4 linked regions of the Homo sapiens genome follow. The protein of the gene in region 4 purifies or fractionates together with the protein of the main gene of each other region. This does not show direct contact. Each region holds a gene or a part of one and is shown on either strand. Other genes may lie near its edges.

Region 1 (6,024 bases), on a different chromosome or scaffold from region 4:
TGCAGCGCGGAAGGCAGAGCCAAAAGGCGCCCCCTGGGCTCCCGGAGCTCTGAGCCACTTCAGGAGTTCGGGCATGTGGGGTTTTGTCTCCGGTTTTAGTCTGGCCATGTTTGTTGGTTCCAATTCCTATGCTCTGTTACCTGAACCTGTTTGATTCTTTTGATTTTCTTCTTTCTGAAAAAGACTTTTCACGGTTTCCTATTCTGCCTTTCTTCCGTATGCCTCTCAACGGGACGAGCAGCTGAAATTAAAAAGATAGTAGCAGGTACGAACCCAAAGGAGTGTGCTGAAGTCAAGAGCCTGTCTGGCGGGCCACAGACCTGAGCGCAGCCCCTCGGTGGCACACCTGCCCCAGGGACAGCCCTGCATGGGGACACGTGTCAGGCCCCAGACCTGCGCACGCACCCAGGCTCAGCCACAGCCCCTCAGGCAGGGTCCCGATGCCCACTCTGCTCCCTTGTGTTACAAATGCCGTGGTCCTTCTCAGCCCTGCTGTGGCCTTGCCTGTCATCAGAGGGCAGCTGGTCTCTGCAAGCGTCTGAGTGCAGGCTGCTTAGGGCACCAGCCAAGGGGGGACGCTGCCTGCACTGCTGCCTCATGGGCCACCTTGACAGATCTGCATGGGTCTCAACAGGTGGGTGGCTTCGTGCCTTCTGCAGCCCAGTCCCCGTGGTCTTGGTGGGCTCTGGCTGTAGGAACAGCCTGTCTCCTCCACGGTGCTTCACATGTGTCCCACGTGGCTTCTGGCTGGACGTGGCATGGCTCCTTCCCCCCTCCCCCTCTTTTTTCCTCCTCTTCCTCTTCCTTCCTCCCTCCTCTTCCCTCCTCCCTCCTTCTCCCTCCTCTTCTCTCCTCCCTCCTCTTCCCTCCTCCCTCCTCTTCCCTCCCTCCTTCTCCCTCCCTCCTTCTCCCTCCTCTTCCCTCCCTCCTTCATCCTCCTCTTCCCTCCCTCCTGCTCCTCTTCCCTCCCTCCTCCTCCTCTTCCCTCCTTCCTCCTCTTCCCTCCTTCCTCCTCTTCCCTCCTTCCTCCTCTTCCCTCCTTCCTCCTCTTCCCTCCTTCCTCCTCCTCCCTCCTCCTCTTCCCCCACCTTCCTTCTCCCTCCTCCTCTTTCTCCCTCCCTCCTCCCCCTCCCCCTCCTCCCTTCTGTCTCCTCTTTCCTCCTCTTCCCAGCACCAGGCCCAGGGCTAGTCCTTTGAGGAGCAAGTGAGGCCATGGTGCCTGCTCTTTCGGAACCCTGCCCTGGAGTATGGGGAGGTGTCACCAGCACATGGGATCTCGTCCTTGTACCATTGACATTCCGTGGTTGAGCCCCGCAGCACCCAGGGCGAGCACGTGGCCCACGGCCGAGGTGGCTGGTCTGCCACCTGCACTTCCTCCTGTGAAAGGAGGTGTGCGGGAGACCTGCTCTGCCCGTCATGGCCTTTCCCTGCAGGCAGGCGTCTGGCCCGGGGTGCTAGCAGGGAGCAGGGGCTGCTGCTTGAGGGCCGGCCCCATGGCCCTGATCTCCTTGGAGCCAGCCCTGTCCCCCACATCCAGGGGTCTGGGCGAGGCCCAGGGCTGCGTTCCTGGGAGAATGCTGACCCTGCACTTCTCTGGCTGGTCATGGTGTCACCACTGGGGAGGCTGGGCCGGCACGTCAGTCTATGCCTGGCATGCAGGGCCGTCCCTGAGATATTTGCTCTCACCACTCACAAAACATCCTTCTCGCTCCTGGATTGAACTTTTATGCCTCACAGCCCTAACCCATCATTTTTCAAAGCTTCCTATAATAATTTGAAAACATCTTGTAAAAATGACATAAGTCACAGCCGCTTGCGGCAAATAACTGGCCAGTGTTGAAGCGAGTCAGACCGGGTGCTCCTGCACCAAGTGTGTGCCAGCCGTAACCCGGGCAGGCCTGTCCTCTGGCCCTTGCTGCAGGCACCAGCTCTTAACACGGGGTGCACTGGGGCTCCCCATCACGCAGGACCTGCCCAGAATTTCCACAGTGGATGGTGTTCAGGAGCGGTGGTTAGGATGGCTGGCGGGGGCCTCACTGACGCTCCAGCTCCCATGCTCCCCTTAGAAGACAGCTTTTGGCCGGGTGCGGTGGCTCATGCCTGTAATCCCAGCACTTTGCGAGGCTGAGGTGTGCGAATCACGAGGTCAGGAGATCAAGACCATCCTGGCTAACACGGTGAAACCCCATCTCTACTAAAAATACAAAACATTAGCCGGGCGCGGTGGCGGGCGTCTGTAGTCCCAGCTACTCGGGAGGCTGAGGCAGAAGAATGGCGTGAACCCGGGAGGCGGAGCTTGCAGTGAGCTGAGATCGCGCCACTGCACTCCAGCCTGGGTGACAGAGTGAGACTCCCGTCTCAAAAAAAAAAAAAAAAAAAAAAAAGACAGCTTTTGTTTGTTTTTAAAATTCTCATCTCGGAGGAAACTTTCTAGAAGTACCAATATTCTTTTCAAAACATAGCTTACAGTTTTTCTTTTCTTTTTTTCTTTTTTGAGACAGGGTCTTGCTCTGTTGCCCAGGCTGGAGTGCAGTGGTGTGATCACGGCTCACTGCAGCCTCGACCTCCTGGGCTCAAATGATCCTCTGGCCTCTGCCCCCCGAGTAGCTGGGAGTACAGACGCCTCTCACCATACCCTGATCATTTTTATTTTTTTGTTTTTTTTGTTTTTGTGGAGATGGGGGTCTTGCTATGTTTCCCAGGCTGGTCTCTAACTCCTGGGCTCAAGCGATCTGCCTGCCTCCGCCTCCCAAATTGCTGGGATTACAGGCGTGAGCCGCCGTGCCCAGGCTTATTTTCTTACGTGCTTGTCCTAGAACAACTGAATGTGTAAAGTGGAAAAAACAAAAACAAAACCCCACCCAGCCCAGATAACCATCTCTGACATTCTGGCACATTCCTTTTGACTGTTGCTCTGGACACTCACTTCCATGGGCAACGAGCAGGCTTGCTGGGGTCCTGCCGGGTGCGCCTGGGGCACAGCCAGTGGGAGAACTGATGCGGCACAGTGGCTGGCTGTGCGGGAGAGGCCATCCCGGGTGGGCTTCCAGGGGCAGTCAGGGCGCAGCCTCTCCCGGGCCCTCAGGCCTGCGTGCATCACTGAGCTGTCCGGGCTTCACGGTCACAGTCATGATGGGTGTCACCAGTGGCCAGTGTTCGGGCACACTCCCTGCAGGTGACCTGTGCGTTGCCTTGCTGTGGGCCGCGCCGTCCCTGGCCCAGCACGGTGCATGAGCAGCCCGGGCACTCTGACTGTGTGCTTTCCAAACCCAGAAGCTGGCAGGGCGGAGATGCTGGACCACGCCGTCCTGCTTCAGGTGATCAAAGAACAGCAGGTGCAGCAAAAGCGCTTGCTGGACCAGCAGGAGAAGCTGCTGGCGGTGATCGAGGAGCAGCACAAGGAGATCCACCAGCAGAGGCAGGAGGACGAGGAGGATAAACCCAGGCAGGGTAGGCCGGGCTGGCGGATGGAGTGGGGTGGGGCCAGGCAGGGGGTCTCCTGCTGTCCTCATGCGGCTGGGTCTGAGGCTCGGTGGCCTCTAGACCTGAGCGTGAGTCTGGTTTTGGTTCCCAATGCTGTTGTTGCTGGTTCTTCTGAGCCCCTCCACTGGCAGCCTGTGTACAGTGCTGTGGCTAAATTGATGACCGACTTCATTTGCAGTGGAGGTGCATCAAGAGCCCGGGGCAGCGGTGCCCAGAGGCCAGGAGGCCCCTGAAGGCAAGGCCAGGGAGACGGTGGAGAATCTGCCTCCCCTGCCTTTGGACCCTGTCCTCAGAGCTCCTGGGGGCCGCCCTGCTCCATCCCAGGACCTTAACCAGCGCTCCCTGGAGCACTCTGAGGGGCCTGTGGGCAGAGACCCTGCTGGCCCTCCTGACGGCGGCCCTGACACAGAGCCTCGGGCAGCCCAGGCCAAGCTGAGAGATGGCCAGAAGGATGCCGCCCCCAGGGCAGCTGGCACTGTGAAGGAGCTCCCCAAGGGCCCGGAGCAGGTGCCCGTGCCAGACCCCGCCAGGGAAGCCGGGGGCCCAGAGGAGCGCCTCGCAGAGGAATTCCCTGGGCAAAGTCAGGACGTTACTGGCGGTTCCCAAGACAGGAAAAAACCTGGGAAGGAGGTGGCAGCCACTGGCACCAGCATTCTGAAGGAAGCCAACTGGCTCGTGGCAGGGCCAGGAGCAGAGACGGGGGACCCTCGCATGAAGCCCAAGCAAGTGAGCCGAGACCTGGGCCTTGCAGCGGACCTGCCCGGTGGGGCGGAAGGAGCAGCTGCACAGCCCCAGGCTGTGTTACGCCAGCCGGAACTGCGGGTCATCTCTGATGGCGAGCAGGGTGGACAGCAGGGCCACCGGCTGGACCATGGCGGTCACCTGGAGATGAGAAAGGCCCGCGGGGGGGACCATGTGCCTGTGTCCCACGAGCAGCCGAGAGGCGGGGAGGACGCTGCTGTCCAGGAGCCCAGGCAGAGGCCAGAGCCAGAGCTGGGGCTCAAACGAGCTGTCCCGGGGGGCCAGAGGCCGGACAATGCCAAGCCCAACCGGGACCTGAAACTGCAGGCTGGCTCCGACCTCCGGAGGCGACGGCGGGACCTTGGCCCTCATGCAGAGGGTCAGCTGGCCCCGAGGGATGGGGTCATCATTGGCCTTAACCCCCTGCCTGATGTCCAGGTGAACGACCTCCGTGGCGCCCTGGATGCCCAGCTCCGCCAGGCTGCGGGGGGAGCTCTGCAGGTGGTCCACAGCCGGCAGCTTAGACAGGCGCCTGGGCCTCCAGAGGAGTCCTAGCACCTGCTGGCCATGAGGGCCACGCCAGCCACTGCCCTCCTCGGCCAGCAGCAGGTCTGTCTCAGCCGCATCCCAGCCAAACTCTGGAGGTCACACTCGCCTCTCCCCAGGGTTTCATGTCTGAGGCCCTCACCAAGTGTGAGTGACAGTATAAAAGATTCACTGTGGCATCGTTTCCAGAATGTTCTTGCTGTCGTTCTGTTGCAGCTCTTAGTCTGAGGTCCTCTGACCTCTAGACTCTGAGCTCACTCCAGCCTGTGAGGAGAAACGGCCTCCGCTGCGAGCTGGCTGGTGCACTCCCAGGCTCAGGCTGGGGAGCTGCTGCGTCTGTGGTCAGGCCTCCTGCTCCTGCCAGGGAGCACGCGTGGTCTTCGGGTTGAGCTCGGCCGTGCGTGGAGGTGCGCATGGCTGCTCATGGTCCCAACACAGGCTACTGTGAGAGCCAGCATCCAACCCCACGCTTGCAGTGACTCAGAATGATAATTATTATGACTGTTTATCGATGCTTCCCACAGTGTGGTAGAAAGTCTTGAATAAACACTTTTGCCTTCACCCAGCCTCGGTGGATGCTGTTTGGTGTCCAGGAAGCACAGGGAGCAGGGGCCAGACAAGCCGGGTGTCCAGGGGCACTGGCCGGTGCCGCCCTTTGCACTCCTCATGGTTGGCCCAGCCCTCCATTGTCTGTGTTTTTCAAAATCCAATTGTGGCTTTTTTTAAAAAGTAAAAAACACCACTGATAACCTGATTAGTGAAGTTGGTCCTGGGGGAGTGACTGAAAGGAAAGCCTGAGGCCGGCTCAGGATTCCAGATGTGTAAAGCAGAGGCCAGAGGTCATGAGGGAACGGCGCCATGACCTGAGCGTCGCAGTGACTGGACACTAGACGCAGCACAGCCCCAGAGAGACCCTGTGAGCAGGCAGAGCCGCCTGGTGCCAGGAGGTGGTCCAGCCCCCAGGGCCAGGCTGACGGGCGTGCTGCCTCGTGACCAGGACACGCTCCACAGCCCTCTCACCTGGCGGGAGAGAGGAGGTGCTGCTGTGTCCACAGCATCCGAGTCTGCTTTGGCTCGTCCTCTGGGGAGCTTGCGCCCCAACCCTGCCACGAAACCCTGCCACGAAGGGCAGAGGACCAGGGCCTGGGTCTGGGGGAGGCCCGTGTTGGCGAAGGGTCCCTGCATGGAGGGCCGGCCTCAGCCTCTGGTGGTGTCTTCCTGCACCTTTTGATATCCTTTTGGCTCTTTATTATA
Region 2 (7,380 bases), on a different chromosome or scaffold from region 4:
TTTACTTCCCTAAGAGTGCAGTAAACCCACTGCCAAGCTAAATGCTAAAAATTTTTAGTCCTTGATTACCATAATTCTTTGGTTCATTAACTGGGCAGTTCTCAGAGGCAAGCTGTACATTTCCATATAGCGCTCATAAAGAAGTCTTCTTTGGATTGTCTCTTACCTATTAGGCACTGCTGATAATAAGGACACTGCAAAGAAATGATAAACCATGGAGAAAAGAGGATTTGGCAGAACTATCATATGCATTCTGCCACGAGATACAGCCCCAACACTGAAGAGACCAGGAATAGTAACTCAGCAATTAGCCAAACACGCATAAAATTTAAAAAACCATTCTATGTAGGTTAAGTACTTTTAATAATTCCAGAGCTCTCATGCTTCACTGGCTCCTCCTACCTGACCCAAACATTATGTCCTTTTTTTACACGGTGGCACTGAAATTCTTTTGATTTACTGCATCCCCTGGCATTTCAGTAATTTAGGTTAAAATGACTTGTAAGCCCCTACTAAACTACCCTTGTCATTTAAAAATATTTGGCTTCAACCACTACATTTTAAACTGCGAGAGAAAAGAAAAGGTTATTTCTTACCTGATTGCCTTCTTTGAAGCTAAGTCCAAAGTCAATGAGTTTAAAACATTCATTCTCTGCACTCCACAATATGTTACGTGGTTTGAGGTCCGCATGGACATAGCCCTCATGATGAAGAAAAGCAAGGGCCTCCAAAACATCTCGGGCACAATGCTGTATCATCCACATGGAACAACCCTGGTGACTGGAATATAAGAGCAATTCCGAAACACTGACATCCAGGAGTTCAAGCAACAGACAGCGTGATGGCACATTTGGAGAAAAGTGGATTGTAAACACTCCATACAAAGTCACTAGAAAAAGAAATTATAATACTTTAAAAATCAGACTCAGAGTAAGTCACTACTAAAGTAGGTAACTGCAGTACAAATTTGAGATAGTCTAGATAAGGATAACTTTGATGAGCAAGCTTCCACTGTAATTTATTTTTCCCATGAATAAGATCTTTTGGCAATTGGGTTATTTTAATAAAAATAAGATGAGACAGCCTACAACAGCTGATTACCATTCACAGATACTAAATATGGTACAATTATTCAATTTGTGTTTCACCAAGTACTCATTGGTGATGAACACGAACTTGGAGTGCCAAGCAAAAATGATTAAAAGTAAAAAACCTAAATATAAATAAATAAAACTTACTGTTGCATCATGAGGTCCTTTAAAAAAAAAGAAATTTTTAAAAGTAAAAACCCAAATATTAAGTAACTCTTTTAAAAGGAATGTCACAATGCGCAAAAACCAAACTAAACATTGCTTCTTCATCCAAAACAGCAGTCTAGGTCTGCCACGGTGGCTCATGCCCGTGATCCCAGCATTCTGAGAGACCGAGGCAGGAGGACTGCTTGAGCCCAGGAGTTTGGAGACCAGCCTGGGTAACAAAAGGGGACCTCTTCTCTACAAAAAATTAGCCAGGCTTGGTGCTACGTGCCTGTAGTCCCAGCTACCTGGGAGGCTGAGGTAGGAGCATGGCTTTAGGAGGAATTGGAGGCTGGAGTGAACTGTGATCTCGCCATTGTACTCCAGCCTGGGTGACAGAGTAAGAACTTGTCTCAAAAAAAAAAACTAAAACAAAAATAAACAGCTCTCTATAATCTAAATACTAACAAAGAGATTAAGACTTTTCGGATGAAATTTTAATCTTGCAGAGATCAGGCAAGTCCCTAGGCTTGCAAAATTTTTCCCTTTTCAATACCAAGGTTATAGTAACAGACCATTTAGTAAACTAAAAAAATGTAGCACTAGTGTTAATTCTTCTCCAAAATGATATTATAAAAAAACTCACTCTTCAAATTAACTATGCATCATACTTGCTAGGAAATAAGACTTTTCTTTAATAACCAAAGCTATAACTAATGATAAGCTTTCTGTCGTGTAATGAAAATGAAACCTTTTCACAGATCAATCATCAGTGATCATTACATATCTTACATTCTGAGTATCTGATTCTTGAAACAGTCTCAAGAGAGCAAAGGTATAGTGTTCCTAAATTTCACACTTCTATAAAGGCTCCCATGGAATAGTGCATCATTTCTTCCAAATCCGTACTAAAGATATAATAGGTGAGCTATACGAGTTACTAGCATTGATGTCACAAGGCCCAGACGTAGTTCCCATTTTCTACTGGTATGCAAAGATTCAAAAATTTCCACACAAGACACGACAATCTAGCAAAGACATGCCTCCTCTCACTAGAAAAGATATTTCTGTATGCTAATGAATGCGGCATTCTCCGATGAGACTCGAAGCAAGACAATTTACTGAGCATCTATGTGACACCTGGCAAAGCAGACCACCAACTCCACTATACCGCAGACAGTAATAAAGTGAAAGGGGAAAGGGGCCTGGATGGGGTGATAAAGAGGGCTAAACCCGCTTCTCCCGCAGAAGGGGAGGAAGATGGAACGCCAGACAGCGAGAGGAAGAGTGTGCTCGGACTGTGACCTGGGCAAGAAGAGAAAGGAGACAGCGGCAATTACCGATGTTTCTGTGACCCTGCAACTGTTCCAGCGCCGCCCTCTCTTTGCGGAAACCATACTCGGCGGCAGAGGCCGCAGCCCCGGTGGTTCCTGGCGGCAAGAACTGCTTGAGGGCGCCGGGGGGCGAGCCAGGGTTGCCGCAGCAGCGAACCCGATACACCGAGGCGGAGGAGCCGCTACCCAGACGGCTCTGTACCTGCCACAGCCGCCCGAAGGCCTCCAGAAAACGCGGCGGCTCCGCGCCCCAGGCGCAGCCGGATCCCGCCATCGGTGTGGGTTAAGGGCACGGACACGGGAGCTGACGCGACGCCTGAGGCAGGCCGGCCGGGCCCGCGGTCACATCTCCGCCAGCCGGACCAGCGGCTCCGCAGGGAGGGACCTGCAGCCGCCTCACCGACTCCCGGGACTTCAAGCAGCCATGACACCGGAAGCCGTGGTGCACCCGAGTCCCAGAAGCCGGAAATGGAGGAAGAGCCTATCATACAGGCCGAAGGAGGGGGGGCTCAGAAGGGGCGGGGCCTAGAAGAGATTAGACGCGCTAGGTTTGGAAAAAAGAACCGAGAATAAGAAGTAACCTTAATTATTGAGTATCTACCATTCCAGGCCCAGTGTTAACCGCTTTCACATAGACCTGAAGCCAAAACTGGTCCTTTTTCTTGTTGAGGCACCTCACCTTACCTCACCACTAGGAACCCGAAAAATAAAACCCGGCCTACATTTCTCATAGAAAGGATCCCAAGGAAAACACCCCAGGAACAAAAAGAGAGTTTACCATCACCTCCAGGTCCACGGTCACCAGAACCCATGATTCTGGAAGCCTAGACCTTTGTTCTTCTTTTAGATGTAAACCGAAAATACAATTCTAAGCCCCCCGTGTCGCCAACCATCGGAATGGACTTTCTCCCAGGCCAGGGCACTCTAAAATTCTGGTTCAGTCCATGACGGGAAGTGGGGGTCCGACTAGCCTCATACCTCTCCGGTTAAGGTCAACACAGACCTTCGGTCTGGTAAGAAACATTTACAATCTATTTTCTTGGAAGCCTGGTACCTGGAGGCTTCATCTGCATGACAAAACTTTGGTCTCCACAAGTTCTTATGACAACCCAGACATTCCTTTCTATTGATAACTCTTTCAACCAATTGCCAATTAGAAAAATTTTAAATCTACCTATAACCTGGAAGGACCCATTTCTCCCCCCACCAATTCCCGCTTCGAGTTTTCCCACCTTTCTGGGCCAAATCAATGTATTTCTTAAATATATTTGATTGAAGTCTCATGTCTCCCAAAATGTATAAAACCAAGCTGCACCCCAACCACCTTGGGTACATGTTCTCAGGATCTCCTGAGGGCTGTGTCACAGACCATGGTCACTCATAGTTGGCTCAGAATAAATCTCTTCAAATATTTTACAGAGTTTAACTCTTTTTATCAACATAGTCCACCTTGCCTATGGCTCCCTCATCAAAAAGCATTCACCCTGGGCAAACACGGATCTGTTCCAAATTTTTATTTTTCATTTATTTATTCAATTATTTTATTCATTCAGCAAACGTTTATTGAGTAACAAATGTAGCAAATAGGCATCTCAATCCACAAACTCGAGTGTGTAAGAAATGTAGCCTTCTTTACTTTTCAGTCATTCAACCTTTTCTATTTCAAGATCTATTCTGATTGTGTGGCAAAAACTTAGTATCAGACAATAGGCCCTATCTTCTTTTCTTCAGGTTTTGTGTAAGTTCCCAGCCAGATGAGATGGTTCATGTAGTGCTAAGTGGAAAGTTTGAGGAGAGGTTGAGGACTAAACTCTGACCTGTCTTCTCTCTTGCTCAATTTTTTTTTTTTTTTTTTTTTTTTTTGGTAAGACGGAGTTTCGCTCTTGTTGCCCAGGCTGGGGTGCAATGGCATGATCTCGGCATCTCCGCCCACCGCAACCTCCTCCTCCTGGGGTCCAGCGATTCTCCTGCCTCAGCCTCCCAAGTAGCTGGAATTACAGGAATTTGCCACCATGCCAGCTAATTTTGTATTTTTAGTAGAGATGAAGTTTCTCCATGTTGGTCAGGCTGGTCTCGAACTCCTGCCCTTGTGATCCGCCTGCCTCACCTTCCCAAAGTGCTGGGATTACAAGCGTGAGCCACTGCACCTGGCCCCAAATTCTTATCTAAGGGATGTGAGGAGTCACAGCCTACAAACCATAAAATCTCATCAGATTGTCAGAGGTGTTCAAACCAGAGCAACTCCATCTTGAATAGGAGCTGGGTAAAATAAGGCTCAGATCTACTGGGCTGCATTTCCAGGAAGTTAGGTATTCTAAGTCACAGGATGAGATAGGAGGTCAACACAAGATACAGGTCACAAAGACCTTGCTGATAAAACAGATTGCAGTAAAGAAGCCAGCCAAAACCCACCAAAACCAAAATGGTGGTGAAGGTGACCTCTGGTCGTCCTTACTACTCATTAGATGCTAATTATAATACATTAGCATGCTAAAGGAAACTCTTACCAGCACCATTACAATTTACAAATGGTATGGCAACGTCCTGGAAGTTACCCTACATGGTCTAAAAAGAGGAGGAACCCTCAGTTCCAGGAATTGCCCACTCCTTTCCTGGAAAACTCATGAATAATCCACCCCTTGTTTAGCATATAATCAAGAAATAACTATAAATATGAATAACTATAAGTCGAGCAGCCTAAGCTGTTGCTCTGCCTATGGAGTAGCCATTCTTTTATCCCTTTTACTTCCTAATAAACTTGCTTTATGGACTCATTCTGAATTCTTTCTTGCGTGAGGTCCAAGAACCCTCTCCTGGGGTCTGGATTGAGACCACTTTCCAGTAACAAGATAGGTTGGTTGGTTGGTTTGTTTGTTTGAGACAAAGTCTCACTCTATCACCCAGGCTGGAGTGCAGTGGCGTGATCTCAGCTCACTGCAACCTCTGCCTCCTGGGTTCAAGGAATTCTCCCACCTCAGCCTCCCGAGTAGCTGGGATTATAGGCATGCGCCACCATGCCCGGTTAAATTTTGTATTTTTAGTAGAGACGGGGTTTTGCCATGTTGGTCAGGCTGGCCTCGAACTCCTGACCTCAGGTAATCCTCCTACCTTGGCCTCCCAAAGTGTTAGGATTACAGGCATGAGCCACTGCACCCGGCCACAAGATGGGTTTTGTTTAACCCCATATAACGTGACTTACTTTCCAACCTAACTCTGGCATAACATCACATGACAGATAAAGAAGGAAATACAAATATTTTAACCCCAAATATATTTCCTTTTTTTTTTTTGAGACGGAATTTCGCTCTTGTTGCCTAGGCTGGAGTGCAATGGCACGATCTTGACTCACCGCAACCTCCGCCTCTTGGGTTCAAGCGATTCTCCTGCCTCAGCCTCCCGAGTAGCTGGGATTACAGGCATCCACCACCACGCCCCGCTAATTTTGTATTTTCACCATGTTGGCCAGGATGGTCTCTATCTCTTGACCTTGTGATCTGCCTGCCTCAGCCTCCCAAAGTGCTGGGATTACAGGCGTGAGCCACCATGCCCGGCCTCTTTTTTTTTTGAGACAGAGTTTTGCTTTTTTTTTGAGATGGAATTTCACCCAGGCTGGAGTGCAATGGTGCGATCTTGGCTCACTGCAACCTCTCCCTCCCGAGTTCAAACAATTCTCCTGCCTCAGCCTCCCAAGTAGCTGGGATTATTCGTGCCTGCCACCACACCCAGCTAATTTTTTATTTTTAGTAGAGTTGAGGTTTCACCACGTTGGCCAGGCTGATCTCGAACTCCTGAGCTCAGGTAATCCACCCATCTTGGCCTCCCGAAGTGCTGGGATAACAGGCATGAGCCACTGTGCCTAGCCCCCAAATATGTTGCTTTGCTATATTTTGAAATGGCCCTGCAAAGCCTGTCTTTTGTGGGGGAAATTTGCATCTGTAAATAATCTGTGTTAACATAACTATGGCTTTTCCCCCTTCCAGGCCCTCCCAACCCTGAAGATATTAAATGAGAGTCTAGCACCTTCTAAAGGTCCAAATAAGAAACATTTTTCATCTATTGTCTCTAAGGATGACCATCTATGAGACTTCATCTACATAATGAGATTCTTGGTCTCTACAACCCCTTATCTTTTTTATTTCTTATTAATTTTAATTTTTATTTAAGTTCCGGGGTACACGTGCAGGATGTGCAGGCTTATTACATAGGTAGGTAAATGTGTGCCATGGTAGTTTGCTGCACCTACCAACCCATCAGCTAGGTATTAAGCCCAGCATACCTTAGCTATTTTTCTCAATGCTCTCCCTCCTCCCATCCCATCCCCAACAGGCCCCAGTGTGTGTTGTTACCCTCCCTGTATCTATGTATTCTCACTATACAACTCCTTATCTTATCCAAGATACTCCTTTCTATTGATTACAGGACAATAACTCTTTCAAACGACTGCAATCAGAAAATCTTTGAATCCACCCATGACCTGAAAGCCATCACCCCTGCTTTGTTGCACCTTTCTAGACCAATCCAGTGTGTACCCACGTATATTGATTGATGTCTTATGTTTCCCTAAAACATATAAAACCAAGATGTAATCCAAACATATTGGGAGCTTGTTCTCAGGACTTCTTGAGACTATGCCTTGGGCCATGGCCACTCATATTTGGCTCAGAATAAATCTTCTCAAATATTTTACAGAGTTTGGCTTTTTTCATTGACACATCTGCTTTTCAGTATCATTTTTCATCATCTTGTCTGGTTGTCACTGAGATGTGTGCACTCTCCTGCTCTTTTTCTTCTTCTTTTTTTAGAGACAGAGT
Region 3 (7,027 bases), on a different chromosome or scaffold from region 4:
TAGAAATTATAGCTAGAATGAAGCTTCTCAAATTACTAATTTACAAATTACAAATTACTAAATTACTTTAGAAAGAAGTAAGGTATAAATAAATCAAATTTAAAAAACTATTAGAACCCATAGAGTCATAATAAATTAGCAAAGAAAAGGACGCCTAGCCCTGATGGGATTTAATTTGGAGAATTTTTTCAGAAGTTCAGAGAACAATTGCCTAGTTACTAATTAGTTCTACCTTCAAAATGTAGAAAGGTATGTTATTAAGTTTCTGATTCATTTTACAAGCATAAATGATTTTGTTTTGACAATTTGATAAAAACAATAACTTTAAAAGAATTTATGGACTGGGGTCATTAATTGACAATACGATATTATATTACAGTAATTATTTACTGTGAGCAAGTTAATTATCCTCAAATGCATGAGCAGCATCATAAAAGAAAAGCTATTAAAACAGAAGAGGAAATTTAGGACTCATCTTCAGTTCCTCTTTCCTTCACTTCTGTGTCCTATTCATGAAAAAATCTTGACTGCTTTAACAAGTACATTAAGAATCTGTGGGCTTCTCAACTTCGCCACTGCTCCTTTCCTAGTAAAAGTCACCATCATCTCCTCCCAAGTTACCGCAGTCATTTCCTGTTGTCACTTTTCACCTCACGATGTCACGTTTCACCTCAACTCCTAACAACCTATTTTCAATATGTAGCCAGAGTGATCATTGTAATGTCCTTTCCTTGGTTAAAACCCTCTAGTGGCTTCTCATCTAACTTAGAATAAAAATCCAGACTCTTCCTATGTCTTCCAGGCACGTAATTTGGCCACTGCCTAGCTCTCCAACTTCACCACATGCCCCTTTCCTTAGGCTTTCCTTGGTTTAGGAAACATACAAGACCAGGGTATGTCCCCCATTAAGCTAGTGTCCTCCTTACAGCTCTTCTACTTGCTGATTTCTCTGTCTGAAACATTCTTCCCTCAGTTCTTTAGGCAAATGTCACTGTCCTGGGGAGGCTTTCTTTGATCCCATAATCTTAAATCGCTTCCCTTCCATGTACTCATTGTCCGTCCAACACACCTCACTCTTTAGTTTCTTCATGTACTTAACTAAAATTACCTTATTTGTTTATTGGCTTTTACCCTAGTGTGTAAGGCCTTTGTACACTGCTGTATCCATAGTACCTATGAGAAGTTGAGATGATTAGTGAATATTAGTTAAATGATTGCATGATGTGTAATAATAGGCAGGATAAGCAATATAATAGTGGGTGAAAAATAGAAAAATTGGCAGTAGAATTGAACAGTCCTTCCACTCCCTTATAGAAATTTAGCATGTAGGACATTAATAGTTGGTAACGGGAGAAAGATGGTCGCAGGAAATAGTAATATAAAGATAACAGTGGTCTTAGGAGTCTTCGGTTTTAATTCTGACTCAGCCATGTAACTTGGAGAAAGTTACCTAATCCAACCTTTAGTTTTCTTCATATGTGAAATCAGGATAGCAATATCTCCTAGATGTTGGATGTACATACTTGTGCATTTCTGTAGGTAAGGTCCTGCTGTCTTCTTTGCCTTGTCCCCCTCTCTTTGGCATAGACATTTTAATGATAAGTATTTTATGTCAGGCCCAAGATTTCAAAAGTGGTTCAAATTCCAATGTCAATTTAGATGTGTAAAATACCTCACGCAGTGAAAGGCACATAGAAAGTGAACAGTAGATGTTAGTTTCTTTCACTCATAGTTGTAGTCTTTAGGCTGGCTAATTCTATATTTAACTTCAAATCTTCCTCAGGATTCTCAGAACCATATATTCTTGCTATTAAAATACATTCCTGCTTTTTCTTAAACCATAAACTCCTAAGAGTATTTTCTCTATGACATTTATCATAATGATTTATTCATAGCTGGTGTTCTATAAATGTTTGTTTAAAATTTAGCATGCGTTTGTTAAGTGCCTGTTATGTGCAGTGCGTGGAGTTAAACACAGAAAACAAAGTAAAGGAAGTGGAAAGACATATTCTAGCTATATGGTAGGAAAATTTTGCTCACTTTTGAAGAGATGAAGATATATTTAATAAGATAGATTAGAATTTATAAAAATAAAAAGACATTGGCGCCCTGAAATATATAAAATGAATATGGAAAGGAAAGGAAAAAAGAAAAAATAAGTTACCAAGACATCCAATAGAATCTTACTATGCAAAGTAGATGAAGATTTGATAGAAATATGTATGGTCATAACAGGATTCTGCTTGATAGATATTTGGGGAGGAGAAACAGTTCACACATGAAGAAGTAGTGATAGAAAACCTGTATGAAGAACATATAGTGTTTCTAGCAATTAAAGAAACCTAGCTCAGACATCTCCAAAGTACATTTATTCAGTAAAAAATTTACTCAAGAAATATCATGTGATACAAAAAAGCATGAGCACAAAAAGCATGTAGAGCAAAAGCGGTAGAAACAAAACAGGTTCTAAACCCAGCTTTTTTACTTCCAGGCCAGCTTTTTTTTTTTTTTTTTTTTTTTTTTTTAGTAGTAGACTCTTTTATTTTTAGACTCTAAAGCTTCAACTTTTAATTGAGTAGAAGGTATAGAGATTTCCCTTATACATCTGTCCCCGCATACTCACAGCCTCCCATACCATCAAAATCCCATGCCAGAGTGATAATATTAGTTACAATTGATGAACCTATGTTGACCCATCATTATCACCCAAAGTCCATTAGGGTTTACTCTTGGTGCTGTACATTCAGTGCATTTTGACAAATGTATAATGACATGTATCCACCATTATAGCATCATGCAGAGTAGTTTCACTGCCATAAAAATACACTCTGTGCCTACTCATTCCTCCCTCCCCCTAGCCCCTGGCAACCACTGATCTTTTTACTGTCTCCATAGTTGTGCCTTTTCCAGAATATCATATAGTTGGAATCATGTAGCCTTTTCAGATTGGCTTTTTTCTCTTAGCAATATACGTTTAAGGTTCCTCATATCTTTTCATGGCTTGATAGCTAATTTCTTCTTAGATCTGAATAATATTCTTTTGTCTGGATATCCCACAGTTTATCCATTCACCTATCGAAGGAAATCTTGGTTATTTCCAAGTTTTAGCAAATAAAGCTGTTAAAAACATTTACCAAGCCAGCTTTTTGTTCCTTGCCCGGCATTTAACTTCTCTGAGACTCAGTTTCCTCATCTGTAAAATTGAGCTGATATTTTCTAAGGATTCTGAGGTTTGAAATTATGTAATTATCTATATAAAAGTCATGAAATGTTATGTGAATAACTGTGAATAACTCAAGTATGCCTGTATTACTGGTGACATTAAAGGTTGATAAAGCCTTTCTGGTAGAAAGCAGTTTGGTCCTATATAACAAAAAGTATAATCTACCTGTGCTTACTCTTTGATCAGATCATTCTATTTTGGGTGTTAGACTTCACATATCTCCAAATGGAGGTGAGAAAAGATTTTTTTAAAGAAAAGTTTTTATAGCAGGGTAATTTATAAAAGCCAAATAGACACAACTGTGGGAACAATTCTAATGCCCAGTAACGGAGAAATACAAAGTAAATTACATGAGGGCAGGGACCATGACTATTCTGACCAATGTGTACCTAGCACCTTACTCACTGTGGTGTTCTAAATATTTGTTGTATTAAAAAGACTGAATAAGCGAATTTAAGGATAAGAGAAGAGTTTTTACTGAATACACAAAGATCTTAGGGGATGGCATCCTATTCCTCTCTTTGTTGCTTTGCATCTCTCATTGCCACACTCAGCTGTGCCAGTTGTTACCTGCTGGACTCCATACTCTCCCCCTTTACTGATGCCAGTGCAGTGCTTAAACATAGGCACTACACTGATATAGCAGCCATGACAGGTAAACTTCTCACTTGGGAAAGAAAATTAACATCATTGTAAAGGAACTAATGCAAGAGTGACCGTACGTCCCAATTTTGCAGAGACAGTCATGGCTCATGCCTGATGTCTCAGTGCAAATCTTGCTAGCATCTCATTTCATTCTCAAAGGTATCCCAGTTTGGACAGTAGGTCACCGTTTAGCTGAGGATCTGACTTTCTGTTTACTTAAGTGCTGTAAGTGCTATAGTTGGGAAACATTTTCTTGTTGTGTCAATTCAGTTTACTTAAACATTTACTTAACACTCACTAGATATAAGGAAATCTTAAATCTGCTGTGAAATACAAAGAAAAATAAGACAAGACCACTGCCACTGAAGAATTTCACGTTAAGTAATGTTTTTTCAACTCTCCAGCTTACCTTGGTAACTCAGAGCCTAATCAGAGCTAGAAGTGCTCCTAGACCCAAGCTTCTGCCCTGACCCCATTCACTTAGAGAACGTCTATCTGGCTCGCATCTGACTACAAGTCCCTCTCTCCTGTGGGACTCAATGAAATGTTAGCATACAAGAACCTGTGCCCCTACCATACCCCACTCAGGGTATCTGGAATAATGGAATTCCTTGCCCAGATATGTTTGAGCCTGCTTTCAGGGCCCATCTGGACCTCTTCCTTGAACACATTCACACAAGGCCCTTTACAGTGCCAGATAAGCTAGGGCTGGGAGAGGGGGCAGATGGCAGGCTAGTGGCAAGAGCTACACAGTAAGCTCCCTGCAATCTTACATGTTCTGAAATTCAAGAATTCTAGTTTTGTACCTGGACTTCCAGGTAATTTCGAATGTGTATTCTTCAAAGTAGGAGAATAGAACAGATTTTAAGTAGTAGTGTATTAGCTTGACTTACTGCTTTTAGGTGTTTAGAGACATGGTATCTGGGCCTCCATTTTCATTCTTTCCATGGACCCCACAAATATTAGAGGCAGGCTGTTTAGAGTAAAACTTAAAATCCTTAGCATGACCTGTGAGGTCCTACATAATCTGCTCCTGCCCTCCACCCTGCTCCACTCGGCTGTACCTGCTTCTTCACTGTTCCAAAACACCCCAGGCACGCTCCCATCTCCCTTGTACTCGCAGCTCCCTCTTGGAATGATTTTTCCCTAGGTTGCCACATGGTCTCTTTCCTCATGTCCTTCAGGTCTGTCCCCCTCTTGACCCCCAAAGTCATTATCCTATCAGTGAGGCCTTGCCTGGATAGTCTTTCTAAGATTTTACCAGTCCCTCAAACACTGTCTCCTTTACTGCCTTATTTACTTCCCTTAAGACACATCAGTATCAGAAAGCCAGAAGTCGTAAAAAACTGAATTAGCTTTTTCCCCTAAATGTCTTTCTTTTAAAACTCCTAAATATTAAGACCATTTATCCTTAAAAATTATTTTGGCTCTTATATCTTAAAATTATCCATATACCCACTTTGAAGAGTTAAATAGTTCTAAGGCTAGTTACTTAAATCAGCAGCCAGTCCCTCAACCCTGCCATCAGTTTCAGGGGTAACTATTTCCAATTCTATTGGACGATTCTTTTAGTATTTCCCATTGTGTCTAAATAACATGCTTATGTTGCTACATTCTAACTTCAATTTTGGGCCTTAATTATTTTCCACCTTACAGGATGAGACGTAAGCCCTCTCTTTCCAGTGTCACACCCTGTGCATGTGCACACACATGCAGCTCTCCCCTTCTCAGTATGATGAAATTGTACTTTTTGGTTTCATCAAGATTTGGTATTTTAAACTGTAAGCACTAGTCATAGCTGAGCCCCATAGTACACTGTGATTACTTTTCCTTCCTTTGCAATGTTTTATTTCTCCTGGAGTTAAAAATTGTCATGATTTTGATTTGTTTACTTTTCTAAGTATATTAGTCCATTCTCATGCTGCTAATGAAACATACCTGAGACTAGGTAATTTATGAAGGAAAGAGGTTTAATTGACTTACAGTTCCATATGGCTGAGGATGGCCTCACAATCATGGTGGAAGGCGAATGAGGAGAAAAGTCATGTCTTACATGGCGGCAGTCAAGAGAGCATATGCAGGGGGAACTGCCCTTTATAAAACCATCAGATCTCGTGAGACTTAATCACTATCATGAGAACAGCACGGGAAACACCCACCTCCATGATTCAGTTACCTCCCATGACATGTGGGAATTATGGGAACTGCAATTCAAGATGAGATTTGGGTGGAGACATATGCAAACCATATCACTAGGTTATTATCATCAATTTTACCCAAGACTGTATCAGTTATGTATATCTTTTTTCAGTATATTCAGTCATCTATGTTCTGCAGTTTTTCTTGAAAAAAATCTCTCATAGAGCCTTTTTAAATCTGAATGATTCTCCGGTCTGCTAGAGTTTAACTGAAACCATAGATGTATCTCTAAGATTTGTTTACCCTCAAAACAGCATTAGGGCAGTTGTTACAGATTATTAATACTATTGTTGTTGTTTTTAAAATAATACTATTTGACCAAATCATGAAAACAACTGTTCACTGTAGATTTTTCAGTGGTTCTCTTTTATGTGTTATAATCAAGATACCTTTTATTAAAAAAATAACAATACATTCTTTGTTTTACATGGAGCATATTAGGGATTACTGAAACAATCTGAATACATTGATGTATATATATAGTATTTTTTTATTTTATTATTTCTTTATAGGCTCTCAAAATTAGAGAGATGTGTAATTGTCCACCACTGTCTAATCCAGACCCTCGATTACTATTCAAACTCAGCACGAAGCATTTTCTTGAAGAATCAGAGAAAGAAGACCTAAATATCACGAAGAAACAGAAAATGGATACTCTTCCTATTCAAAAACAGGAGCAAATACCATTAACATACATAGTTGAGAAAAGAACGGGCAGTTGAATTAAAATTTATGAGACACAAGATATATGAAGAATGTTGCAGTCCTTATCATTTTATGTTACTTTTTAAAAAATGATGTTTGAAGTGAAAAAAAAAAGGATATTCAGGGTCAAATCATGTACATTACAGATATTATCTAAATTCTTCTAGAATTTATTTTTCATGAAATATTGATGTATTTTAATCTATGTTAAAATATCTTCAATGAGGAAAATGTCACAGAATAAATTTATATTAC
Region 4 (7,027 bases):
CCAAAGTGCTGGGATTACAGATGTGAGCCACTGCGACTGGCCCCATATGCTCTTTCAAATCAGGAAATGAGTGAGAAGGAAAAGGCCAAGGTTGACTCCTTTTGAGCTCCTGCCATCAGGATTTCAGAAGTGTAGGCAAGCTTCCTAAGTCCATGGGTCAGATAAATTATGCTTACGTGTATGGAATGTTAGAACTTTGGGGCGGACCTTAGGAATTACCTAGTCTCTTCCACCTCCCCATTTGCAGCTCAGAATCAAGCAAAGGACTATATTTGAGACACTCTCATAGGTTCCTTTCTAGCCCTAATGTCATTTGATTCACTTCAGGGAAGCTGAAAATTGTGAGGAGGGAAAGAAAAAGAGGGACAAAGGAAGGAAGCTTAGTCAGCACACATAGTCATCCCCCACCCCAAAACAGGCTATGAGCCCATTGTCTTAGACACTTCCCACTTTCCCACCTGAATTGCCTTTTAGCCATGGGACAGGCCTTCTGGTTATCCTGCCTTCCTCTACCCCATTTCCTTCCTCTTCTAACTCAAGTGATTATCGTAGGAGGTGTAGAGGGGACCAGGAGAGGGAATAAAGAGCAAATTCATCAACTTTTGACTCCTTAGAGGCCACTGTTATTGATGTTTCTCATGCATTTGTTCTCATGGCATGTTTTTAAAACAGGAAACTTGGTTGGGCATGGTGGCTCACGCCTGTAATCCCAGCACTTTGGGAGGCCAAGGCAGGTGGATCACCTGAAGTCAGGAGTTTGAGACCAGCCTGGCCAACATGGTGAAACCCCATCTCTACTAAAAATACAAAATTAGCTGGGCATGGTGGCGTGCACCTGTAATCTCAGCTACTGGGGAGGCTGAGACAGTAGAATCGCTTGAACCCGGGAGGTAGAAGTTGCAGTGAGCTGAGATCACGCCATTGCACTCCAGCCTGGGCAAAAAAGAGCAAAACTCCATCTCAAAAAAATAAATAAGTAAATTTTAAAAATAAGAAGCTCTGAGAAGGTATCGTATCTGGTGTTACCAACAGGTAAAGATTAGGGTTTGGAACTAAATGTAAGACATAGGCTTGCACAATCTTAGGGTTAGAGGGAACCTGAGAGGTGTTCTAATTGGAATTTTCCTAATATGGCCCTGTCAAGTGGTTATCTAGTTTTTGCTTAGTTACCACGAGTGACAAGGAGCTTGCTACTTAACAGAGGCAACCTGTTCCATTTGGGACAGGCTGGCAGGAAGGCATTCATGGAAAGTAAGACACTACTGGCCAGATGCAGTGGCTTATGCCTGTAATCCCAGCACTCTGGAAGCCTGAGGCAGGAGGATCATTTAAGCCCAGGGGTTCAAGATCAGCCTGGGCAACATAGCAAGACCTTGTCTCTATAAGAAATATAAATAAATTAGCCAAGAGTGGTGTTGCATGCCTGTAGTCCCATCCCAGCTACCTGGGAGGATCACTTGAGCCCAGGTGGTCGTAGCTGCAGTGAGCCATGATGGCGCCACTGCAATCCAGCCTGGGCAATGGAGTGAGACCCTGTCTCCAAAAAAAAAAAACATAAGGCACCGCTGTCAGGAATCCAGGAGTGCGTTAATCCAGTCATCCCTCCTACCCCAAAACAATGGCAAATAGGAGATAAGGACTACTCTTTCACTAAATTGGCCAGAGCCCTGTACTTTCGTATATGTCTCTCTGATCAGCAGTGTTGGAGCACAGAGCCTAGCCTAAAGGCCTCTGCAGGCTTTTACCTTCCTCTAAGTCCAAATCTGAACTTTGGGCTGTCTCCTTCCTCTAGAGCAGGGATTCCCCAACCCCCAGGCCGTGGACCGGTACAAGTCCATGGCCTGTTAGAAACCAGGCCACACAGCAGGAGGTGAGCTGCGTGTGAGCAAGCAAAGCTTCATCTATATTTATAGCTGCTCCTCATCGCTCACATTGCTGCCTGAGCTCCGCCTCTTGTCTTATCCGTGGTGGCATTAGACGTTCATAGGAGCACAAACCCTATTGTGAACTGCATATGTGAGGGATCTAGGTTGTGTGCTCCTTAGGAGAAGCTGATGCCTGATGATCTGTCACTGTCATCCATCAACCCCAGATAGGGCTGTCTAGTTGCAGGAAAACAAACTCAGGGCTCCCACTGACTCTACATTATGGTGGATTGTATAATTATTTCATTATATATTACAATGTAATAATAATATAAATAAAGTGCACAATAAATGTAATGCACATGAATTATCCCAAAACCATCTCCTACAAGCCCAGTTCATGGAAAAATTGTCTTCCATGAAACTGGTCCCTGGTGCCAAAACGGTTGGGGACCACTGCTCGACAGAGTTGGTCAGATGCACAGGAAAGTAAAGCAATAACTAACATGCTTAGGAGGCCCACATGTGAGGAGAGAAGCGTGATGGCTGGTCATGAGGGCACTGGCCCACCAGCTGCTAGAAGCAGAAGAGGGCTGGGTGTGGTGGCTCACGCCTGTAATCCCAGCACTTTGGGAGGCCAAGGCGGTGGATCAACTGAGGTCAGGAGTTCGAGACCAGCCTGACCAATATGGCGAAACCCTGTCTCTACTAAAAATACAAAAATTAGCCGGGCACGGTGGCATGTGCCTGTAGTCCCAGCTACTCAGGAGGCTGAGACAGGAGAATTGCTTGAACCTGGGAGGCAGAGGTTGCAGTGAGCCAAGATCATGCCATTGCACTCTAGCCTGGGTAACACAGCAAAACTCCCTCTCAAAAAAAAAAAAAAAAAAAAAAGAAGAAGCCGAAAAAAGAAGCAGAAGAGGAGGCCTCCCATGAGGGCACTGTCTTTTCTGCCTTTGAACACACAGAATGTGTTCATCTAGTAATGAATGTACCCTAGTCTGTGCCTTAGAATATGAGCAATTAGATTAGCAATTGTCTAGAGGCCTGTGAGGAGAGGGGAGGAGGAAGTAAGAGAGAACTGGGGAGATAGGCAGAGACCTTTTCTCTAAAATAAGAACTAGAGGCTGGGTGCAGTGACTCACGCCTGTTATCTCAACACTTCAGGAAGCCAAGACTGGCGGATGACTTGAGGTCAGGAGTTTGAGACCAGCCTGGCCAACATGGCGAAACCCTGTCTCCACTAAAAATACAAAAATTAGTCAGGGCTGGTGGCGCATGCCTGTAATTCCAGCTACTTGGGAGGTTGAGGCATGAGAATCCCTTGAACCCAGGAGGCAGAGTTGCAGTGAGCGGAGATCGCACCATGGCACTCCAGCCTGGGTGACAGAGTGAGACTCTGTCACAAAAAAGTAATTAACGGAATAAAATAAGAACCAGAGTTTGCAGCAATAAGCCAAAAGGGACAGAAGCACTGATCAAGCCCAGGAGGAAACAGGACAGGAGAAGGTCAGGGGGAGATGATGGTATAGAAAGGAGACAGGGGTTCTTCTGTCTCTTAGAAAAGATGGATGAAGTAGAAAAACATACTGAGCTGAGGCCACCCTTGAAGTCAACTCTACAACAGTTCTTCAGGTATTTGAAAGCAATAAACACATTTTTTTTGGATTTCCTTATCTCTAGAATAAATATTCTCATCTGGACCCACTCCTGTTGGCTAATATTCATCTTAAGGTAGAGCTCATGTCTTAACATCAAGTTCCAGTTGTGGCATAGAATTGGGCAAGACAAAACATCACTTTTTCTGGCCACAGTGAACTGATGACTACGTCTTTGTTAGATTGACGGTTTGGTGGTTTATTTTATTTTATTTTTTTAATTTTTATTTTTTGAGATAAGGTCTCACTCTTGTCATCCAGGCTGGAGTGCCGCAGTGGCTTAATCATGGCTCACTGCAGCCTCAAACTCCTGGGCTCAAGTGATCCTCCTACCTCAGCCTCCTGAGTAGCTAGGACTACAGGTGCATGCCACACCCAGCTAATCATTTTTAATTTTTGTAGAGACAAGATCTCGCCATGTTGCCCAGGCTGGTCTCAAACTCCTGGGTTCAAACGATCCTCTCACCTTGGCCTCCCAAAGTGCTGGGATTACAGGCATGAGCCACCCACCATGCCTGGCCTGCTCTTGGATATCTCAGCCTTTTCTTTTGGTCCATCCTATCTTAGAACGAGCCTTATGATGCCAAGCTCTTACTCTTCTTTTGAGTTTTAGAATTAGGTTAGACTCTGAGTGACAGGAAAAAAAATAGTAGCTTAATTAGGATAGAAATGTATTTCTCTCTCATGTTCTGGGCTTATATGGCTCGCCATGGTGTCCTTAATCCCACCTAGCTGTTAGAATAGTTAGTGTTGGCAGCCAGGCAGCCTGTGCTTAGCTAAAGTTAGGAATCCTGCTACTAAGGAGGAAGCGGGGAACAGATATTGGGAATTAGGCAACAACCTCCGCCACCTTCTCTATGCCAGAACCTGGCCACCTTTCTCTCCCTTGTGGTGGAAGTCACTGGTCAGCCTTAATGCTGGTCTCCACTGAGCTTCAAGCTTTGGGTATACTGGCTCTGAAACTCAGCACTGGGTGAGGTATCCTGTGTTCCTGCTAGTTGGGGCCTTATGGACAAGATATGGAGGGGAGTAGTCCCTCACGGCCCTAAGAGGCCCCAGGCCATCTCTGTGCAGCCACTGAGTGAGGAGGGTCTGCTTTGGACTTTGCAGAACTTATTGAAAGCGCAATGTACCTCTACCGTGCCACGGGGGATCCCACCCTCCTAGAACTCGGAAGAGATGCTGTGGAATCCATTGAAAAAATCAGCAAGGTGGAGTGCGGATTTGCAACAGTAAGTGTTTGCATGGCCCCAAGAACTGGGAAGAGTCTCCCCTTGCTGCTAAAAAGCCTCTTTAAGGGTAGAGCTTTGGGAGTTCTGACATATCAGCACTAGAAGGGACCTTGGAGATATACATAATGCTCATATTTTACAGATGGGGAGACCAAAGAACAGAGAAGCTAAGTGCCTTGCTAAAGATCTCACAGCTAGTAGAGGTAGAGCTAGAATTAGTTCCTTGGGATCTTGACCCCGGCCCTTGGCATTCCTCCCACAGTGGAGATCTTTGATCTGTTTGAATAGGTGACTTTGAAAAGGTGAGTTTAGCGAAAAGTTTTGTGAGACACTAAAATAGATTTTAAGGGGAATCCAGAGTCCCATAGCCCTATATTCAAACCTGGGACTCCTTAACAAAGCAGTCCTGCTTAGTCTCACAGATATTTCTTGAATGTCTTTCACATGCCAGGCACTCTGCTAGGCCCAAGGGTTACAGCAGTGGCCTTGCTCTCATGGAGCTTACATTTTAATGAGAAAAAAACCATGAATGTGTATCTGGTAGACAGAAGGCCAGTGTGGCTGGAGCGGAGCAAGCAAGGAGAAAAGTGGGAAGAGATAAGGTCCCAGAGGTAGGCAGGGGCTAGATCATGTAGGGTTTTGTGTAAGCCACAGGAAAGAGTTTGGGTTTTTTTTTCTACTTGGAATGTGAACCCTTGGTAGGATTTACAGCAGAGCAGTGACATGATCTGATTTGTATTTTAGAAAGATCGCTTTGGCTGCTTTGTGAAGAATAGATTGAAAGGGTCAAAGGTGAGAGCCATCTCACATCCATGCAGGAACCAAGCAGGCAAGATATAAATATGAAAGTAGAAGAAAATAGTCTGGAAGAAAATCCCCTGAAAAGCCTACAGTGTTGGGGTATGGAATTCAAAACAACAACAAAACACTTATTTTGCAAAAGTTTGTAATGTGATTATATTCTATAAGTAAAATATAGATATGTGTAGGGGAAGAGAGAAGACCTACATGTGGAAGGGAAAAAATAAACCCCTGATATGATTTGGTTTCTAATATGCTGTATTGTGTGAAAAACCAAAATGATAAGCCCACTGGGGCCTTCCTAGGAATGCTGGGCTCATTTCCATGAACATGAAGCCCTTTGGAGGTCTTCCATGGTGAATGATGGGAACAGGGGTCTGACCTTTCTCAAACAGGGCAAGGAAATAATCATCTTGATACATCAAGACCATATTTGAGTCATATTTTTAAATGTAAGATAGAGTCCACTGAGAATGTTTTGTTTAGAAGTATTACTAATTCTGAGAAGCTAAAATAAATGTTTGTAGCAAGTAATCTTAGTCATCCATGCCTGAAAACTCAGTTGAAATTCTCTAAATAAGACTCCTTACTAAAACAATGTCAATAGTTTTCATCAACAGCAGTTGAACCTAGTAAGTGTCGATACTTTGGGTCTGAGTGGAGAAAAAAAGACCCCTTATTAGTTGCTTACAAAAACTTGGTAATTGGCCAAGCGCAGTGGCTCAGGCTTGTAATCCCGGCACTTTGGGAGGCCAAGGCAGGCGGATCACGAGGTCAGGAGTTCAAGACCAGCCTGACCAACATGGTGAAACCCTGTCTCTACTAAAAATACAAAAAAAATTACCTGGGTGTGGTGGCATGTGCCTGTAGTCCCAGCTACTCTGGAGGCTGAGGCAGGAGAATTGCTTGAACCCGGGAGGCAGAGGTTGCAGTGAGCCGAGACCATGCCATTGCACTCCAGCCTGGGCAACAGAGTGAAACTCCATCTCTAAAAAAAAAAAAACTTGGTAATCATCTGAATGCCCTTCCAAGGAGGATTAGCCAAGTAAATGGTGATCCATTTTCACGATGGAATACTCTGCCATCATTAAAAGGGACGATTAGCTCTATGTTTATAGTCACAAAAAGTTGGGATAAAGGGGATAGGAGATTGTCATGTCATAGAGCAAGGTTAGCGGAGACCTTTCTGGTGAGGAAGCATTTGAGCAGAGACCTGAAGGAAGGGAGGGAACAAGCTATGAGAAAAACTGGAGGCGGAGTGCTCCAGGCTGAAAGAACCACAGATGCAAAGAGCCCGAAGCAGGAGGGTGCTGTGCTAGCTCAGGACAGAAAGGCAGCAGCTGGAGCTCTTAGAGTGGTAAGAGGTGAGGGCAGGAAGGGAGCAGGGGCCAGGTCATGACTTGCATTTTTATCCTGCATGAAATGGAGGGCTCACAGAAAGTTGTGAGTAGAGAATTGACAGGAAGACTTA

Evidence for each region.
Region 1: the proteins of EDEM2 (region 4) and SLC38A10 purify together in Homo sapiens (co-immunoprecipitation; 3 studies listed by BioGRID and IntAct, with this or other methods). This does not show direct contact.
Region 2: the proteins of EDEM2 (region 4) and UHMK1 purify together in Homo sapiens (co-immunoprecipitation; 3 studies listed by BioGRID and IntAct, with this or other methods). This does not show direct contact.
Region 3: the proteins of EDEM2 (region 4) and OMA1 purify together in Homo sapiens (co-immunoprecipitation; 3 studies listed by BioGRID and IntAct, with this or other methods). This does not show direct contact.

The regions. Positions count from the first base shown.
Region 1 is NC_000017.11:81,244,311-81,250,334, reverse strand, and holds the end of SLC38A10 (solute carrier family 38 member 10), read left to right. Parts: intron 1-241; coding exon of another isoform or gene 242-265; intron 266-3,273; coding exon 3,274-3,450; intron 3,451-3,661; coding exon 3,662-4,779; 3' UTR 4,780-5,524; downstream 5,525-6,024. UniProt on the Homo sapiens protein: Facilitates bidirectional transport of amino acids. May act as a glutamate sensor that regulates glutamate-glutamine cycle and mTOR signaling in the brain. The transport mechanism remains to be elucidated.
Region 2 is NC_000001.11:162,493,464-162,500,843, reverse strand, and holds the start of UHMK1 (serine/threonine-protein kinase Kist), read right to left. Parts: upstream 3,027-7,380; 5' UTR 2,844-3,026; coding exon 2,576-2,843; intron 890-2,575; coding exon 597-889; intron 1-596. UniProt on the Homo sapiens protein: Upon serum stimulation, phosphorylates CDKN1B/p27Kip1, thus controlling CDKN1B subcellular location and cell cycle progression in G1 phase. May be involved in trafficking and/or processing of RNA.
Region 3 is NC_000001.11:58,480,727-58,487,753, reverse strand, and holds part of OMA1 (metalloendopeptidase OMA1, mitochondrial precursor), read left to right. Parts: intron 1-6,579; coding exon 6,580-6,789; 3' UTR 6,790-7,027. UniProt on the Homo sapiens protein: Metalloprotease that is part of the quality control system in the inner membrane of mitochondria. Activated in response to various mitochondrial stress, leading to the proteolytic cleavage of target proteins, such as OPA1, UQCC3 and DELE1.
Region 4 is NC_000020.11:35,116,326-35,123,352, reverse strand, and holds part of EDEM2 (ER degradation-enhancing alpha-mannosidase-like protein 2 isoform 1 precursor), read left to right. Parts: intron 1-4,633; coding exon 4,634-4,755; intron 4,756-6,145; exon of another isoform or gene 6,146-6,217; intron 6,218-7,027. Other genes in the region: MMP24-AS1-EDEM2 (ER degradation-enhancing alpha-mannosidase-like protein 2), read left to right, coding at 4,634-4,755. UniProt on the Homo sapiens protein: Involved in the endoplasmic reticulum-associated degradation (ERAD) pathway that targets misfolded glycoproteins for degradation in an N-glycan-dependent manner.